Regions from separate parts of the Homo sapiens genome. Here region 2 is linked to region 1. The links come from fine-mapping of genetic effects on gene expression. A gene starts in region 1. The other region holds a variant in brackets. All regions are shown on one strand. Distances are from middle to middle.

Region 1 (5,400 bases):
GTGATATAGCAGTTAGTAGATGGAAATGTCTTTTTAAATCAAGCATTAAAAAACAAACAATATGGATAAATTCCAATTCATAACAACATACATAGTACTAGGCTATGCAGTTAATGGCTGAGAGCAAACATCTAAAGACACAGTTCCTGGTTTCTAAACCCAAATCTACGACTTACTTGTCATGTCTCTGTGTCTCTTTTTCCCCTGATTTGTAAAATGGGGATAATAATAGTACCTATCTCCTAAGGTTGTTGGGAGAAATAAGTCATAAGCATGAAGTTCCTAAAACAGGGCCTGCACAGAATAAGCACAATACATGTTACATGTTAGTGTGATTATTATTACGAAGTGCAGAAATTCACTGATTTACAGAAAGTGAATTTACTACACATTGTTTTTCAAATTGAATTTTGACATTTCTGGCCTTTTCTCATTTAAAAAAAATGAATAAAAGCATGGAATTTGTTAGGGTATTTATTGACCTTTTAGTGCCATTATGAATACGATTTAATATTCGTTAAATCTTGTTATGATTACAATATTATTTAAAATAAAACTATGGGAGAAGAATACTTGGGGAGGGGAAAAATCATCACCTACTACTTCTTAAAATGAAATTTTAAAAGTGAAAATAAGAGGAAGGATTTATATGCTGCAGGTGACCTTTAAATGTCACATTCACTAATATATAAATGTAAACAGAAAAATATAAGTCTGGTAATAATAGTAAACTGATCAATGCAACTACATTGTTCTGTGATATTATAAGTTACGTTTCCATTCCAGAATGTCAATATTTTAACACCTTTTAAGATCAAATTATAGTGAATTAAATATCAGCTGGTTAGTTCTCTTCATGTTATTTACAAGCTTGTAGTTTATCTCTTACTTGGATAGCCCCCTGTACTAAACTTCTAAATATACAAGATTTGAGGGCATAAATTATTTAATAGTTAAAAAGTAACTTCAATTTGGTAAGACAATCCCTCAATGAGATCTATTTCAATAATCTGTCTGGAGTAATGTTGTTACTATTAATCTTAGCTCACTTTCAAAAGTTAGTGAAATATGATTTAATAGACAATTGGTTACTTGTTTAAACATCAGTTAACTGAATTACATGATTTAAACAGCAAACACTATTTTAACAATGGCAAACACATATGCACGTGCACACACACACATAACATTGCAGTTGATTTTCACACAGCTTTATAAACCACTTTAATTTTTTCCCTCCTCCACCTCAATTCCATCAGTAAAGAGTTCATCTTTAGGGGTTATATTTAATATATTAATAGACCTTTCATTGTACTCTCCTCCAGTTCTTGAGTATCCAAAGCAATATGCACATGTATCTGTCCAGAGCTGAATTTTTTTTCTGTATAATAATTCTTCATGGAGGCAAAGAAGGTGCAAGTATTTTCTTAAACCCCTAAGCTATACACTTGTAAGAAACAATTACTTTTATGCTTTGGATAACCGATAAGAAGTTAAAAGAAATTAAAACTTACGTTTTTCCATCACTAGATTGACCAACCCACTATTTTAGTCACATGGCACGAGACCAAATATTAAGAGAACCATTGGCCGCTAAAACAAGAATTTGTGACTTGCCCTGTTTGAGGAGCATTTGGGACATACAAAATGTTCCATGTGAAGATTCAAAAAATTAAAAGGTTATTCAATGCCTTCCTTTAAAAGTTTCACTGAGGAAGTCCCAGAGGCCCAATGTTACCCAAATACTTGGCATAAGTTCTAGTGCCAGATATTTTCTCAACATGTATTGCACACTTAAAAAAAATTGTCACTTAATTTATACTTGTTCCTGACTTCAGCTACAGAGCTAGGAACGTCTTTCTCATTTTAATAGTCACTCAGGACCTGACAACAGCCCACACACATAGTAAATGGTCATAGAATCTGTGACATTAAACTGAAAACACTCAAAATGTAGACAGGTTGGCTAAGCAAACAGCATGCTCCCACCTGTGTTCCTGCCCAAGTCACTGAGACAGGGCAGCTCACAAGGCTGAAACTCCAAAGGCCCCATCAGTTGTAACTTCCGAGTATGTGTCACTTGCACAATCAACTTTCTAACTCCAAGGAGCCTAAGTGAGGCGGGCCTTAATGGGTCAAAAATCACACTTAGGTGAGCAGCACCTTTTAAGACGTTCCCTCAAACAAGTTCTAAACCAGTGGTTCTCAAACTTCAGTGGGCATTCCAATCACCTGGGGATCTCGTTAAAGAGCAGATCCTGAGTCGGTGGGTTTGGAGAACTGCCCATATTGGGCAGTTCTAAGAAGCTCCCAAGAGATTCCAATGCTGCAGGTCCACTCACGACCCTCGGAGCTCAAGGCCCACAAACACCCAAAGACACCCACATCACTGATATTAGCAATAGACAACAGCTGCAGCTACAGGCAGTGCCCCATAATCCCCTGGGTTTTCTGCATCCCCTGAGTGTCGCCACCGGGTCGCACCTGGCAGGTGCCTTGGCTGCAGCCGCGCCCCACTCCTCCGCGCCGCGCTCACCTTCTCCCGGGTCTTCAGGTACCGCTGCAGCGCCTGCTGGGTGAGCTCGCCGACGCGCAGCTGGCCCTCCTTGCAGGGCACCACGATGCCCGTCCTGCCGAAGCACACGGTCACTTTCATCCTGGCCCCCGGCGACCACGCCGGGCCGGGCCGAACAGGTGTCTGACCCCGCGGGCGCAGCCCCCACTCTCGGAGGACGCCCGGGGCGGGTGGGCCCAGAGACCCGGGGCGCCGCTCCCCGGAACACCCTGAGGCCCGGAGGCTCGCGGCAGCGCCCCTTCCACCTGGCCAGGCGGCAGGTGGCGGGAATCGGGGAGGGGCGGCCGCGGAAAGGGGTTACCTCCCAGGTGCCCGGCGGCCCGGGACGCGGCAGCTCCGCGGCACCGGCTCCTCCTCCTCCTCCTCCCGCTCCTACTCCTGCCCGGCCCAGGCGGCTGCTCCGCGCCCACCAAAGCGAAACTGCCGGCCCTGCCCTGTCGCTGGTCCTGGCCCTGGCCCTGGCCCTGGCGGCGTTGGCAGGGCCGGCCCCAAGCCGGGGGCTGGAGTGGGCGGCGGCGGCGGCGGCGCACGGGGCCAGAGTTGGGAGGAAACTTTTGCGCCGGCTCCCAACTCCTCTGCGGCGCCCGCGCTCTGGGCTCCTGCGGTCCCGGCGACGGCCTGGGCCCGGCTCTTAAAGGGGCCGCGGCGCTCCCGGGCCCCGCCGCACGCTGGGCGACGACGTGCCCCGGCCCTGCGGGCCAGTAACTGGAGCCCGGGAGCCTCGTCTCGTCACCTGGGTCTCTCCCTGGCTCTCTCCCTCTCGCACGCATGCACACGGAGCTCTGGGGAGTTGTAAGGGGACCTGAGGGCTACACGCTCGAGGATTGAAACCGGATCTCAGAAAGAACACCCGAGGGAAGAGCGAGGAGACTGCAGAGCTGCGCCCTTCACAGGAGGGGACTGCAGCAAGATGCAAAAGGAGCCCAGGAGCAGGTGCTTCTAGTCACGCCCACCAAAAACACCCAAGGGGCGAGGCTGCCGGGTGCGGAGATGCAGGAGTGCCCCGAGGGCCTGTTAGGAACTCGCCTTAAGCACAGCCCGTGCCGCTGCCATCAGGAGCCCTGGGATAGCAGAGCTGAAGCGAACCTTGGAGAGAACGCGCCAGTGGAAACTTTTCCTTTTACAGACCCTCGAGGACACTGAGTATTTGGCCAAAGGTCACACCCAAGACCCAGATATGATCGCGTGTGTTGACACATAGCCTTCTGGAATGCGACTACCGTTGTGCATTTTATTAGGAAAAAAAAAAGTTAACACCCTTAGGCTCATGATTTGGCAGGTGTGTATCCATCACCAATTGAAATGGGAATATGTGGGGGAAACCAACAAATTACGTTAGTTTCATTCTTAGCTCTCATGTAAATGAGCTCCTTTGAGCTTAACAACTACCCGGTAGGTAGATATTATTCTTCGCATCTTGTGCATCAAGAATGGTGCTCGGAGAGGTCAAGAGACTGAGCAGACCATGGTGTTAGTTCTGTTGAAAAGAACTCAGGTCTTCTGAGCTCAATCTCTGGTCTCTCCCTGCAGTTTTCTTAGCCATCCAGTTCATCCAGCAAGACCCTCAGGGCTGCATCATGTGTTTCTCTACAGAAGGATGTGCTCCTATGTGGACACACTTAAATTGAACGTGAATTGCCTAGGATGGTATGATAATGCAGAGGAGATTAAATTCATGGGTTTCAAGAGGTTTTTTAAAAAAATAAATTTTAGCTCATTCATACATTCAGTAAGTATATATTGGTTGTCTTCTATGTATAGAAAGTCAGTGGCAAACCAAGAGGATCACGTAAACCAAGTCCATTGTAATTTGGTTGTAAATCCAATACAAACTAATTTACATTTAAATAAACCAAAGACAGAATTGATCACCTCATAAAATCAGAAGATCCAGAGGGCACTCCATTGAGGCAAGGTTGAAAGCAGGAACTCAAACTATGTCCTCAGGGGCCAGCTAGCTCTGTCCAGCTCTTAGCTCTATCTGTTCCTCAGTGTGGTCTCCATTCTCAGGCCAGCTCTCTTCAAAGGAGACACTTTATCCTCTTTTTAGAGATGAGGAGCTGAGGCCAAAGGAAGTTAAATGATTTAGTTAAAATCTCATTCTTAGAAAGTAGCAGAGGCTGGCTTAAAACCCAGGTCATCTGATTCCAGAGTCTTCATCGTAACTGCTGTGCTGTTTCTTACATGAGAAGTACCAATGAGTGAATCAAACAAACAAATAGATACTGATGCCGTGCATTAATGTGTGGCCCTCACTTTTAATATTCGGTATTTCATGGACCTATAGAATGGTACAGAGCAAAGATTTTCCACTGATGAAATAACTTTGCATGTTGCCATCCTTCCTGCATCGTGGCTTTTTGCTTTACAGTTGCTCCAGACTCATTTTCTTCTGCTTGGGTCATGAATAGCTCCTCCTCTTCGCCACAAATTCCCTCTTAGCCCAGCTTTAGCTCCTTCCCAATATCTAGAACCTCCCACCCCAAGTCCTGGCTTTGATAATCCCCAAGTGAACCATAAAGAACACTCCGGCTCTCCCAGTTCCACTTGGGAAGTTGGAATCGGGACCTAGGGGATGCAGCAGAGGCCATGCCATTGTGAGATGAAGGAAGAGATGACTCTAGACAAGGATGTGAACAGTGCATTGTGCAATCCTGTACACCATGGGGTGACCTTTTATAGCCCTAAGTTAGTATGAAGAGTTTAGTGTTTACATTTCATGTTTATTAAATAGCCAGGTTTAATTTGTTATTCAGCCTCATCACAGCATATATAGAAACAATTTACCATATATTATCAAGGGATTAAAAAAAAGAACACAATTG
Region 2 (5,400 bases), 840 kb before region 1:
GATTCTCCCCATACCACAAATTAACCTCAGGCTTTGCCGTGGAGAGCACATAGACACAGCTAGGAAGGAAAATAGAGCTAGGAGGTTGGCAGTTTCTGAGTAGGAGTATATTATTTTAGGTGGACTTTTAGGACTGACCATAAGTCCATCATTGAATCAACAAGTACCAAGCATTATATAGGAATCAAAAATAGTCAAAGACACAAAATCCCTACTCAGATCTATTTTACTAGAGTGTCATCAATTCTCAGTGACTCAGAGGCTTTTTATCTCCTATGTAGATTACCCACAGCCTGTGCTTCCCCTTTTTCTCTGTCTTTCCATTTTTATGGTCACCTGAGGACTCATTAGTGCTCCTACCAGAGGATAAGTAAAGGAAGGGAAAGGATATAAAACTTAAAGTGAGTCAATTTTGCTACCTTTAAGTAGTTGAGGGAAGAAGAAGTAGCTATTATAAGGCTTGCAGATTATGTGAAGATTTCAATTATCCATTCTCTCTCTGTCAAACTTACCAAAAATAATTAAGGGTTGGCTGTAACCCTCCTTGGAATGTTAAAATGACTGATGGTTGTGGCAAGTAACCACAGTAAATAAGATGAAGTGAGGTAAACTGTGCTAAGGGGAGATAAAAAACATAGTTTCAAGTCAGTTTCAGAGTCCCAAAGGAGCAATCCAATAAGCATCAAGCCAGTGGGCAATTTTATAAATATAAACATTAGATGCATGGGCAAGAATCACAAATTAGGTTAGAAGAAGGAAGTAAACACCCATGCAACAGTATACTACTCACACGGCAACCTATGAACACCAAGTACATTTTGCTAATGAAAGAAGCCAGATCCAAAAGGCTACATATTGTCTGGTTCCATTCATTACATACCAGGAAGATGAAACCACAGAGATGGAAACCAGATCAGTGATTTGAGGGGTGAGGGGGAAATCTGGGGTTATGGAACTATTCTGTATCATGACTGTGGATGCATGACTCTTTGCACTTGTAAAACCCATAGAACTGTATACAACAGAGTGAATTTCACCGTATGTACATTAAAACAATCAACCAAGGTATGGAGGGAACCCAAACAGATATACAAACTATAACAAGTGAAGCTAATGTTATTACAAATAACTAACATAACCACACTGAAGGGCTTGAGAAAGAAAATAACTAAGTATCATTAGAAAACCGTATTTTGAGAAAATACCACAAAGCTAAAGGCAAAAAGAAATGTACACAAGTACTGCACTCTGCTTAGTACTAGGGTATGGATTAGCAATTCTGAAAAAAAATTTATGAATATATGAGGGTTGAACAAATAATTATATTGCAGATAGTCAGAGACAGCTTTCTTACTGCATGAGAAAGAAGTTACAAATAATGAAAGAGGAAGAGGCTAGAATGATTACTGTGGTATTGGATTAGAATTGGAGGTATCAGTATAAACTCATGGTTTTTTAATGTGCATACAGATAGATTTGGAAGTAAATATAGATATGTGTAGACATAGTTTAGATCGATCTATCTATCTATCTATCTATCTATCTATCTATCTATCTATCTATCTATCTATCTATGTAAACTTTCCAGGTTCTGTTTCCTGAGAGAGTCTAGAAACAATGATACTCAAGCAATGAGTATTCCTAGAGCTCAGATCTTGGTTTCTACAATAAAGGAGCCAGACTTCCTCGGAGAAGTGGTTCATTCCTGGGCTGTGGCGGGGAACCTATGAGGTAAACTTACAGCATTTCACGGTGCCAAAAAATAAGAAACTTCTTCAAAAGGTATGGACAAGTTAAAATGGAACATGAGCTATCCTGAAAATGCTCCCAGTGGCCAATACTGAATAATCTGAGCAACAAAATAAATGATAGGCCTAGATTATAACCCTTAGAATAAAATAAATATCCATGAATCTCATAATGACATAACTAAGCGAATAGAGACATTAGTGGTGGGAGAAAGTATAGTTCTTCCTTAGATAAGAATTCCAATTAATGAATGTAGAAGGAATTAGTGCAACAGGAAATCACCATTGAAACACCATGGTAACTATTGCTACTGACAAGAACCACTAATGGATGGTAAAAGTTGTGGGTGAAAACATGAAAAGAAACAGGATATTTGCATAGTTTCAAAATATCTTCCCCAAGATATGTATTAATTACAAAGGGAAAAATCGTAACTTCATAGTGAAGAAACCCAGCGGACATGGCTTAATGAAATGATCAAGATGAACATCACTAGTTATAAGATACATCAACATCATGTACTTCCTAAGAAGAGTATATCACTTCAGCAGTATTCAAGCCAAAAATGCATAACCTCAATCTAATCATGGTAAGAAAAACCCAAATTGAGTGACATTTTACAAAATAACTCACTACTACATTCCAAAGTAACAAGGTCATGAAAGATAAGGAAAAAGGGAAGAACTGTCACATAGCTAGCACAGGGGACCAAGGAGTTACAACAAATAATGCAATGTTGTATCCTGGATTAGATACTGAAACAGAAAAAGGACATTAATGGAAAAACTGGTGAAATTCAAATAAGTTTTGTAGGTTAGTTAATAGTTTTGTAACCATGTTAATTTCTTAGTTTTGGTCCTCTGTACCATCGTTACGCACTATTTTAACATTGGGGGTAATTATTGGGTAAAAAGTATATGAAAACTGTGCTACTTCTTTGCAAATTTCTGGTAGTCTAAAACTGAAAAAGTTTTAAACAACAAGAAGGAAAAGGAGAGAAATGATTAGGAAAGGTTAAAGAAGGAAATGCATAGTTATTTCTGTTCTGCTTGATGCATCCCTCTAGTTTCTTGTTAGACCTTGTACTAATTCCCCTTTCCTACTCATTAACTGCAGTCCTCCCCCAAACAGAAATATATACATTGTCTACATGTTTCTGAGCTTTTCAGATATAGGTTTATTAATTTAATTGTCTACCAATACATACCACTCTCCGTTCGCTTTTATTGGTTGGGAAATCACTAGATTCAAAGGAAACGGACATGAAGCTAGAGCATAAGCAATGGAGATGGGAAGACTGGCATTAACGCTAGCTGGAAGGATTACTCTAAAACAGTACAAACAAGTGGTAAAGATGACGAGCAGAAATGGGTAAAACTAGAGGAGACAAATTAGTAGATATGCAAACCATAAATATACAGTACCTTCCGACCTTCCAAAGCTTGGCATTATCTACTTTGAACACAGCCTTTTGAGGAAGTTACTACTTAACGACATAT[G/A]TAATTAGCAGATCTATTATGGAACACTTGATTTTGATTAGCAAGCATTGAAGAAATGCAAATATGAGCAGCAGTTGTCATTGTGACAAAAAATTGTGAATTTTGTGTGTACTATATACCATGGGCAAATAAATGTCCACATATATATTATATATATAACATATATTCTTTTTATATATATTATATATAATATATATTCTTTATATATTATATATAATATATATTCTTTATATATATTATATATTCTTTATATATATTATATATATTATATATTCTTTATATATAATATATATAATATATATTCTTTATATATTATATATTCTTTATATATAATATATATAATATATATTCTTTATATATAATATATATTCTTTATATATAATATATCATATATATTCTTTATATTATATATATTCTTTAGATATTATATATAATATATTCTTTAGATATTATATACATTATATATTATATATATTCTTTATATATTATATATATTCTTTATATATTATATATATTCTTTATATATTATAATGTATTCTTTATATTATATATAATGTATTCTTTATATTATAATGTATTCTTTATATAATATATAATATATTCTTTATATATTATATATAATGTATATTCTTTATATATTATATATATTCTTTATATATAGTATATATAATGTATATTCTTTATATATAGTATATATAATGTATATTCTTTATATATAGTATATATGTTTATTCTTTATATATTATATATAATATATATTCTTTATATAATATATAATATTCTTTATATAATATATATAATATATATTCTTTATATATTATATATAATATATATTCTTTATATATTATATATAATATATATTCTTTATATATTATATATAATATATATTCTTTATATATTATATATAATATATATTCTTTATATATTATATATAATATATATTCTTTATATATTATATATATGTATTCTTTATATAATATATAATATATATTCTTTATATATTATATATAATATATATTCTTTATATATTATATATAATATATATTCTTTATATATTATATATTATATATTCTTTATATATTATATATAATATATATTCTTTATATAATATATAATATATATTCTTTATATATTATATAATATATATTCTTTATATATTATATATAATATATATTCTTTACATAATATATAATATATATTCTTTACATATTATATAATATATATTCTTTACATATTATATAATATATATTCTTTATATAATATATATTCTTTATATAATATATATAATATATTATGTATAATATATATTTTTAACATATATATACATATTTTTTTTTTTTTTTGAGGCAGAGTCTCATTCTGTCGCCCAGGCTGGAGTGCAGTGGCATGATCTCGGCTCACTGCAACCTCCATCTTCTGGGTTCAAGCAATTCTCTTGCCTCTGCCTCCTGAGTAGCTGGGACTACAGGTGCGTGCCACTGTGCCTGGATAATTTTTATATTTTTAGTAGACACGGGGTTTCACCATATTAGCCAAGATGGTCTCAGTCTCCTGAACTTGTGATCCACCCGCTTTGGCCTCACAAAGTGCTGGGATTATAAGTGTGAGCCACTGCACCTGGCCCCACACATATATTTTTAAGAACAAGTATTCAAGTAATAAGAGCTCTCACTGTAATACCTGCTAATTTGTATTAATGCAGAGATATAAGATGCTGCCACTTTTTTTGTTTGCCAATTACTAGGATGGTACATAGTAAGCAGAGAATTAGCCAATTTTGCTAATTAGTGAATTTTGCTAAAGAGTGTGGGTAATACAGAAGTCATTTATGAAATTATATTTTAAAATAACAATGTAAAATAATAGCTCATATCTTCTCTTTGCCAATATACTGGTCAAAATCAGAGTCTATGTTTGCTTTTTTTTTAAAAAAAACCCCAAATATAATAATATTAGACTTCATCATAATCATGGAACATGGGTACATTCTGGATTCGTCCCTAAAGATTCAGCATGCACATGTAGATTTCACCTAACAGTTGTCAAGTGTCCAGGTTCACTGGAGGCCAATCCCATGAAACTCAGAGAGGAGGGACCTGTCTGCCTGTCAATATTAATCTCCATGAATTATAACCCGGTATTTGATTGCCTC

Evidence for each region.
Region 2: its variant is fine-mapped to the expression of PARD3B in blood mononuclear cells (TOPMed, PIP above 0.99).

Annotation. Positions count from the first base shown.
Region 1 is chr2:204,543,256-204,548,655 of GRCh38, reverse strand. It overlaps PARD3B (par-3 family cell polarity regulator beta), which reads right to left and starts at 3,181. Exons shown (of 23, transcript NM_001302769.2): 1 at 2,537-3,181. The coding sequence starts at 2,656. RefSeq lists a silencer at 3,145-3,194.
Region 2 is chr2:205,379,259-205,384,658 of GRCh38, reverse strand. All of the region lies in intron 18 of PARD3B (par-3 family cell polarity regulator beta), which reads right to left. Among named protein-coding and RNA genes, the nearest start is that of NRP2, 300 kb to the left of the region's middle. The variant G/A (reference allele first, on the strand shown) is at 3,249.